Regions from separate parts of the Homo sapiens genome. Here regions 2 and 3 are each linked to region 1. Evidence: fine-mapped expression QTL. A gene starts in region 1. Each other region holds a variant in brackets. All regions are shown on one strand. Distances are between the middles of the regions.

Region 1 (2,764 bases):
CAGCTCTTTTGCAGCGACGCCGAGCGCCGGGCGCGGTGGCGCGTGCCTGTAGTCCCAGCTACTCGGGAGGCTGAGGCTGGAGGATCCCTTGAGTTCAGGAGTTCTGGGCTGTAGTGCGCTATGCCGATCGGGTGTCCGCACTGAGTTCGGCATCAATATGGTGACCTCCCGGGAGCGGGGGACCACCAGGTTGCCTAAGGAGGGGTGAACCGGCCCAGGTCGGAAACGGAGCAGGTCAAAACTCCCGTGCTGATCAGTAGTGGGATTGCGCCTGTGAATAGCCACTGCACTCCAGCCTGGGCAACATAGTGAGACCCTGCCTCTTTTGAGTTCTCACCTTATAAAGTAGCCTTTCTTCCCATGCATCTATCCTAAGACAAAAGAAATGCAGAATTTACATTCTTACAGGACTATTTTCCTCACTACACTGTGAATCCCCCCTCCCACCCCACCCCCATTGGGAATCTTCTTGTTTTTATTTTTATCTTATTTCACCATTATCTAGCTAAACACTTGCACATTCATGCTGCCAAGTGTTTATGGAGCACCGATTGTACACCAGGTACTGCGGTGAGTCTCAGGGGTACCAAGACCGAGGTTCGATGAGAATCCTGTAATCAATTGCAGAATGCTCCTTCCGAGAGCAGGACCCATCAAAATAGGAACTCCGTTTTGAGAGTTCGCCTCGATCGTTGAGGATAATCTTAGAAGGACCGAAGCAGTTCCGTTTCGTTACATTTCAAAATCTTATGTCAAAGTAAGCGCGCAGAAAGGGGTCCTTGCTCTTCTACACTGAGCCCTACGGCCCCCCTGTGGGGAAATACTCCTGATAATCATCTCGAAAATTGTTTCGACCAGCAGGGGTCACTATGAAGGCTGACTTGAGCCCAAGACACAATGGGGCACGGTAACCAGACTGGTCCGTAAGGGTTCCAGGAAGGAATGCAGTTTCAAGAGAACAGTTTGAATCTTTATTCGAATTTGAATTTTGGTACAATGAAGAGAGTCAGCTGCAACTTGACAATCGAAATCTTCAGAAAAGCGACACAAATACGTTCGCCTCGAGGAATATTGGGTCTTCTGCGCGGCCGTAGAGCTCCGCCAAGTGCGCCTGCGCGGAGGAGAAGTGGCGTCGAGTCCGGCCGGGCAGTAGAGGAACTTGCGGTAGTGACCCTCGGGCCTCGCCATGAAGAGCCGCTTTAGCACCATTGACCTCCGCGCCGTACTCGCGGAGCTGAATGCTAGGTACAGTACCCTAAGTGACGAGGCTCGTGTGGGGAGTGCAGGAGGCAGAGGCCGGAGTCCCATGGCGCAAACAGACCAGCTTGATATGTTTCCTTATTTCCTAGTGCGTCTATGGACCTGCCTAGGCCTGAGTGGGCAGGCGTGTGGTGTCTTTCCCGTGACCCTTAGGATACCCCTGGGGGTCCCAGGCACCTCGTGCCCCATCCCCCGCGTCCTCCCAGCTCTCTGGCTTGCCCCGCTAGCGCGAAGCTCTTGCATTGTTGGCCTGGGTTGTCCGGGTTGGGCAGGAAACGTTTGTTAAAACACGAGACGCCAGAGTGGTCGTTTGCTTCAGAGGTTTCCAGACTGGGGGCTTGGTTTCTTGAACACCTCCCTCCCCTCACCCCAGAGAGAGAGAGAGCATCGCGGTTTTAGCTGGATTGAGCAGATTTGGACTGAGATCTGGATTCTAGTCTGGATTCTATTATTCAGCCCTGTGAGCTTTGTCATATTTTCGGGGCCCTCTTTTATCTTTTTTTTTTCTCCCTTGTAATAAATTAATTGGATTATATTTTACTGTATTTCTCCCCCAAAATTGGGTCATTTGGAAGACGCAAGCTATAGTGTGTTGTTCCTAGAGCTGATAGACCACTTCTGTTTTTAAATCGTTACTCTTAAGTTTTGAACTGAATCTCCAAATGGCTTTCAGACTCTGCTCCTCGGCTGACTCCATATCCTTAGAGACTGAGATCCGCTCTTTCGAAGCTTTTATTAAATTATGTGTAGTTTTATGTTTCAGACAATAGTGTAACATGTTACATGTTTCCTTTATCTTTGCAGCTTGCTAGGAATGAGAGTAAACAATGTTTATGATGTGGATAATAAGACATACCTTATTCGTCTTCAAAAGTAAGAACATTTTATAGGCTTATTTTCTCTTTGACAATTAAGTATGAGATTACTGATTTTTTTTAACCTACATTTTAAGCCTGTTTAGCAATTAGCTTTGGCATATACCCTAAAGAAAAATTCGACTTTTTTCTTCTACAGACCGGACTTTAAAGCTACACTTTTACTTGAATCTGGCATACGAATTCATACAACAGAATTTGAGTGGCCTAAGAATATGATGCCGTCTAGTTTTGCCATGAAGGTAAACTTGTTACGCTTGAAGCTAAATTTTAAGAGATTGCTCACTAACAATTAAGTTTTTAATTGGGGTTTCCTTCACTGTTACGAATAAAGTGCAGATAAAATGAAGGTAAAGGGAGTGGTTGACAGATAATGGGTTGAATAAAGTGAATATTTATTAATTGATTTCTCCCCATTACCTTTCACATCCTGTTCTGCTCCAGATCTTCTGTTTCCACAGTCACTATTAGAGTTCAAGCTTTTATCACATTCAGCCTTACAGTTCCTTAACTGTAATTCACTTCTCTGCATCAAAACAATTCTAAATTAGACCAACGTTAATTTTTTTGTTTTTGTTTGTTTGTTTTTTTGTTCGTTTTTGAGAAGGAGTCTCGCTCTGTCACCCAGG
Region 2 (2,764 bases), 280 kb before region 1:
CAGATAAAAACATTTTTTATACTAGAAGTTAGCACAGATAGGTTTAACTTTATAATCATTCTTTCTTTCTTTCTTTCTTTCTTTCTTTTTTTTTTTTTTTTTTTTTGAGACAGTCTCGCTCTTGTTGCCCAGGCTGGAGTGCAATGGTGTGATCTCGGTTCACCTCAACCTCCGCCTGCCAGGTTCAATTGATTCTCCTGTCTCAGCCTCCTGAGTAGCTGGGATTACAGGCATGCGCCACCACGCCCAGCTAATTTTGTATTTTTAGTAGAGATGGGGTTTCTTCATGTTGGTCAGGCTGGTCTCAAACTCCCGACCTCAGGTGATCCACCCACCTCAGCCTCCCAAAGTGGTGGGATTACAGGCGTGAGCCACCGTGCTCGGCCTATAATCATTCTTGACATTACTTTTAAAGTAATTTAAATGACTACTTTTAAAGTAAAAGGAATTTCCAGAGTAATTATAAATGATCAAGAATGATCTATAAATTGGATTAACAGACCTTAATCTAATTTATCTCCACTTTTTTTCTGATTATCAAAACTTCATTGTGGATTATAACCATAGCTTTGTTCTAAACACTTTTGGTAGCTTACTAGTGATGATCATTTGTTACAATGAGTAGGAGTAAAGTTTCCTAAGGAATAAGTAGTGCTACTGCTGAGCCATTAAAATGATAATAAATGAAAACTCATATTCTTAATAGAACTTTAAGACTAGAATATAACTTCCACAGAAATTATATAATCTTATTCAGAAGTAAAGAGATTGGAATAAGCAACACTTGTGAACTTTTCACATATTGTGGGCTCTTAATGTGTTATTTTTTAGCATTAAATAAGTAATTTTCAGCAAAAAATTTTAATGAGATCTTATTTTAATAAGATCTAAAATATATACTTACTATATATGCACTTGTGTTATTTGTTTAATTCCAGAGATTCTTTGAAAACCTTAACCCCATGGGAAGTGCATCTGAAAAAGAGTTTACAGATTATTTGTTCAACAAGTCACTAGAAATTGAACCTCGAAACTGCAAACAGCCACCTCGATTTGTAAGTCTTTTATAATTTCGGGAACAAGTGTTCTGTTTTTTAAAATATTATTTTCAATGTTTAACAACCTGTTATCTTAAAAATGTAATTGAATGGCTGTTCCTAGGTGTTTTGTTTGCAGTAATATACTATTTCTAAAACT[G/TG]GGGGGGGAAATGTCAGCCTTTTGATAAAATCTGGTTTATGCCTTATCTTGGTACTACTTATTTATGTGTCTACTTTTGATCCCTCCTAGAATAATACAAAAAGGTGTGAGAAAGTGAGAACTTAATAGGTAGCTGAATGGAACAGAAAAAAAAAGAAAAGACCTGGGAAGGAGTAAGCAAATGTATTTTGGTTCTTGTGACTTGATATGACTTCTGCCATTAGGGCTCCATGGTCCATAGTTGCCTCTGGAACCCATCTCTGTCACTAGAATTTGATGCTACAATTTCCAGTTACTGCAGGAGTTTGCAGTGGCAACAGAAGTAGTAGAAGATGAACTCTAAGTAGCTAAAAGTGAAGCAAGATATAGAAGGAAGTAAAAACACAAACCAACTTTAGGTGAAGCAGGAAGTCAGGTAGTTTCATGCTATCTCATCTTCACAATTGTGTGATATATGAGGGGACTTCAAAAAGTTCATAGAGACCGGGCATGGTGGCTCACACCTGTAATCCCAGCACATTGGGAGACCAAGGCAGGCAGATTGCTTCAGTTCAAGAGTTTGAGACCAGCTTGGGCAACATGGCAAAACCCTGTCTCTACCAAAAATACAAAAAAATTAGCCAGGCATGGTGGTGCACGCCTGGGGGCGGAGGTTGCAGTGAGCCAAGATCACTCCACTTCACTCCAACCTGGGTGACAGAGCAAGACCCCGTCTCAAAAAAAAAAAAAAAGAAAAAAGAAAAAAGAAAAAAAGTTCATGGAAAAATGGAATGAAAAGATAAATTTTTTTGATGGAATTAAAAGATAAACATAAAAACATAAACTTTATTTCCCAACATAAGCTTCCTCAAGTTCAGGACACTTTTGTAAGCGCTAATACCAACCATTTTGTCCATCCCTAAAAAACTAAAGATCCTGGGAATTTAACCATATCATTGCAGTCTCTTTTACATTATTAACTGAAGAAAAATGGTTGCCCTTTAATTTTTTTTTTTATAATTAGGAAACAAAAAAAGTCAGAAGGAGCCAAGTCAAGACTGTAAGTGGATGCCTAATGATCTGCCATCAAAACTCTCAAAGAATTGCTCTGGTTTAATGAGAGGGATGAGCAGGAGCATTGTTGTGGTGGAGAAGGTCTCCTTGGTGAAGCTTTCCTGGTTGTTTTTCTGCAAAAGCTTTGGCTAACTTTCTCAAAACAGTCCCATAGTAAGCAGATGTTATTGTTCTTTGACCCTCTACAAACTCAACAAGAAAAATGCCTTGAGCGTCCTAAAAAACTGTTGCCATGACCTTTCTTTTTGTTTTTGTTTTGTTTTTTTTGAGACAGAGTCTCGCTCTGTCACCCAGGCTGGAGTACAGTGGTGCAATCTCAACTCACTGTAACCTCCACCTCCCAGGTTCAAGCAATTCTACTGCCTCAGCCTCCCACGTAACTGGGATAACAGGTGTGTGCCACTACGCCCGGCTAATTTTTGTATTTTTAATAGAGATGAGGTTTCACCATGTTGGCCAGGCATGTCTTGTACTCCTGACCTCAAGTGATCCACCTGCCTCGACCTCCCAAAGT
Region 3 (2,764 bases), 310 kb after region 1:
ATACCTGTGACCTTGGGAGGCAGACATTATCCTCATGAGACAACTGGAGCCCAGAAAGTTTAGGTCACTTGCCCAGGGTGACTCATTCTATTCTCAGGCCCATGTTCTTTTTCTTTCTCTTTTTTTTTGAGATGGAGTCTCAGTCTATTGCCCAGGCTGGAGTGCAATGGTGTGATCTTGGCTCACTGCAACCTCCGCCTCCCGGGTTTAAGTGATTCTCCTACCTCAGCCTCCCGAGTAGCTGGGATTACAGGTGTGCACCACCACACCCGGCTAATTTTTGTATTTTTAGTGGTGATGGGGTTTCACCACATTAGCCAGGCTGATCTTGCACTCCTGACCTTGTTATCTGCCTGCCTCGGCCTGACCTGAAGCCTATGTTCTTAATCACCAACTGCCTCCCTGTGGGAAAGCGGTGTAGGCCAACTTGGTAGGAGATAAGATCTCCTGGAATTTAAAACACTGGAGAATTTGGTGCCTTAGGAAAGCGAGAAAGTGTTGGTCAGAATGTAAGTATCCCTGGGCTATAGGCAGTCCTGGACTGCACTGGCCCAGGTAATTCAGACCTGACATTTAGAGTTGTGGCACAAGCCCTCGCTGGGCAGGTAGCTCTTTCTCCTGAAAAGAGATAACAGAATGACTCCACCATGGTTTTTTCAAGGGCAGGCCTGAAGCAGTTACTGGGGAGAAATGTCTCCCATATGGAGGAAGGCAGAGAGGGAGTGAAAGGAAATGGAGAGCAGGCTCTGAGAAGGCAGAAATAATAATGTGAACAACAGGAGAGGAAAGGAGGTGGGCGGGTGGGTGAAAGCACAGATATATCGTTATTGTTATAATCAAAGGGAGAGCGGATACTGGAGAGAACATTTCCTATTAATAAAAGATCTAAAATGACGGAGGAAAGGACAGTAGCTGAGAGGCGGCCTTCTTTGAAAAATATGGCCACTAAAAGGAATTCACCTTTCCAATTTGCACTGTACTTTACAGTTTCCCAAGCGCTTTTTCATCTATTATTTATTCTGACATCAGTGCTGTGAAGTATGGCATTATCAACTCTGTTTGACATATAAGGAGGTAGGTTTCAGAAAGGAAAGGTCCTATTTGAGGTCCTGTGACTGGTTAGATAGAGCTGGGACCAGAACTCAAGTCTTAGCCCTGCTGGACTTCACCCCCATCATAATGCCAGGGGGACAAACAGGGTCATCACATAGTAATTCAAACTTCGGGAAAAAAGCTGCAAGAGCTGCCTAGGAAAAGTTGAACATGGTGGAAAATTTCTGGGGAATCTATTAATGTATAATTATGGAAAGTTTATTGAAATTCATCTAGTTAAGATTGAATTTATACAAACACTTTATTAATTTATATTCAGGTGACCAGAAAAAGCGACTCTGAATACAAAGAGTTTGTATTATCTGGTATTCCTTGTTCTAGCTGCAGAAGAGTAAAGATTAATTCTTGATCTTTTTTAATGGTCTGATGATTTGTCTTTGCTCTCTTTCCCCAAGGGAAAAAGTTTCTGTTCACTTGCTCCTT[A/G]ATGATAGCACTTTGCATTTGTTTAATGTTACTCAGTTTCTCTTGGTAGTGTACCCCACAGTAACAGAGACCTCAATGAATTTAAGAATCCAGTTTCCACTGAGCTTGCTATAGTTCATATTTCTTTCTGCTTTTTCTATATTGGCATGCTGACATTTGGAGAAGCGTCAGTTTGCTTCTCCCAACGCCCTTTATTCACACAGATAACTCCATTTCCAGTGTAACCCCTCTTATTCCTAGTCTTGGTATTTTGCCCTTATTCTTTAATCAAACTACTGATATCTGGAATTTTATTGTCTTTCCACATTATTAGTTATTTATTGCTGTGTAACAGATTACCCCAAATTTTATAACAAATTAAAAAAAACATTATCTCATAGTTTTTGTAGGTTGGGAACCAAGACACTGGGTTGACGTCTCTCACGAGGTTGCAGTTAAGCTATTGGGCTGCTATTATCTGAAGGGCTCCAGGATCCATTCCCAGTTCTCTCATGGCTGTTGGCAGGAGGCTTTAGCTCATTGCCATGTGGGCCTTTTTATAGGACTGCTTATGACATGGCTTCCCTCATAGTGAGGGATCCAGGAGAAAGAGGGAGAGAGAGAGTGTGAACAGCAGGTGGAAATCCCAGTCTTTGGACAACCTAATCTTGGAAGTGATATTTCTATCACTTCTTCCATATTCTAATCAATATATGTGACCCAGTAAGTTCAGTCCACACTCAGAGGGAAATTAAACTCTACCTTTTAAGGAGAGGCATATCAAAGAATTTATGGACATATGTTTAAAACAATCACATTAAATAATTATTTACAGTTTTCTGAGACAGGGTCTTGCTCTGTCACCCAGCTGGAGTGCAGTGGCATGATCATGGCTTGCTGCACCCACAACCTCCTTGGCTCAAGCGATTCTCCCACCTCAGCCTCCCTAGTAGCCAGGAGCATAGGTACACACTATGGTGCCCTGCTAATTACAATTTTTTTTCTTTTGTAGAGACAGGATCTTGCCATGTTGCCCGGGCTAGTCTCAAACTCCTGGGCTAAAGTGATCCTCCCACCTCAGCCCCCCAAAGCGCTGGGATTACTACAGAGGTGAGCACTGTGCCCAACAATTATTTACAGTTTTATGACTATGTGCTAGACACTTGCTAGGCTTTAGGGATTTAACAAGGTTCTTGACCTTATAAAAATTTAAGTCCAGAAGCCATGCTATTTTCTTCTATTTCCTTTC

Which allele goes with the higher level. Alleles are on the strand shown, and positions count from the first base shown. SD is a standard deviation of normalised expression in the study named. Not every link is listed here.
With allele G in place of TG in region 2, the expression in unexposed skin of the gene that starts at base 1,152 in region 1 is lower (small effect, 0.32 SD a copy in GTEx).

Evidence for each region. PIP is the estimated chance that this variant, and not a neighbour inherited with it, causes the effect.
Region 2: its variant is the best candidate, but not a certain one, in a credible set for the expression of NEMF in unexposed skin (GTEx, PIP 0.68).
Region 3: its variant is the best candidate, but not a certain one, in a credible set for the expression of NEMF in whole blood (TOPMed, PIP 0.81).

The regions. Positions count from the first base shown.
Region 1 is chr14:49,851,176-49,853,939 of GRCh38, reverse strand. NEMF (nuclear export mediator factor) reads left to right here and starts at 1,152. Exons shown (of 33, transcript NM_004713.6): 1 at 1,152-1,245; 2 at 2,065-2,133; 3 at 2,275-2,377. The coding sequence starts at 1,187. It also overlaps RN7SL3. RefSeq lists a silencer at 43-102 and an enhancer at 906-1,145.
Region 2 is chr14:50,132,414-50,135,177 of GRCh38, reverse strand. SOS2 (SOS Ras/Rho guanine nucleotide exchange factor 2) reads left to right here. Exons shown (of 23, transcript NM_006939.4): 19 at 939-1,055. Among named protein-coding and RNA genes, the nearest start is that of VCPKMT, 17 kb to the right of the region's middle. The variant G/TG (reference allele first, on the strand shown) is at 1,198.
Region 3 is chr14:49,542,940-49,545,703 of GRCh38, reverse strand. It overlaps LOC107984701 (a long non-coding RNA gene), which reads left to right. Exons shown (of 3, transcript XR_007064154.1): 2 at 2,528-2,625. Among named protein-coding and RNA genes, the nearest start is that of RPS29, 42 kb to the left of the region's middle. The variant A/G (reference allele first, on the strand shown) is at 1,537.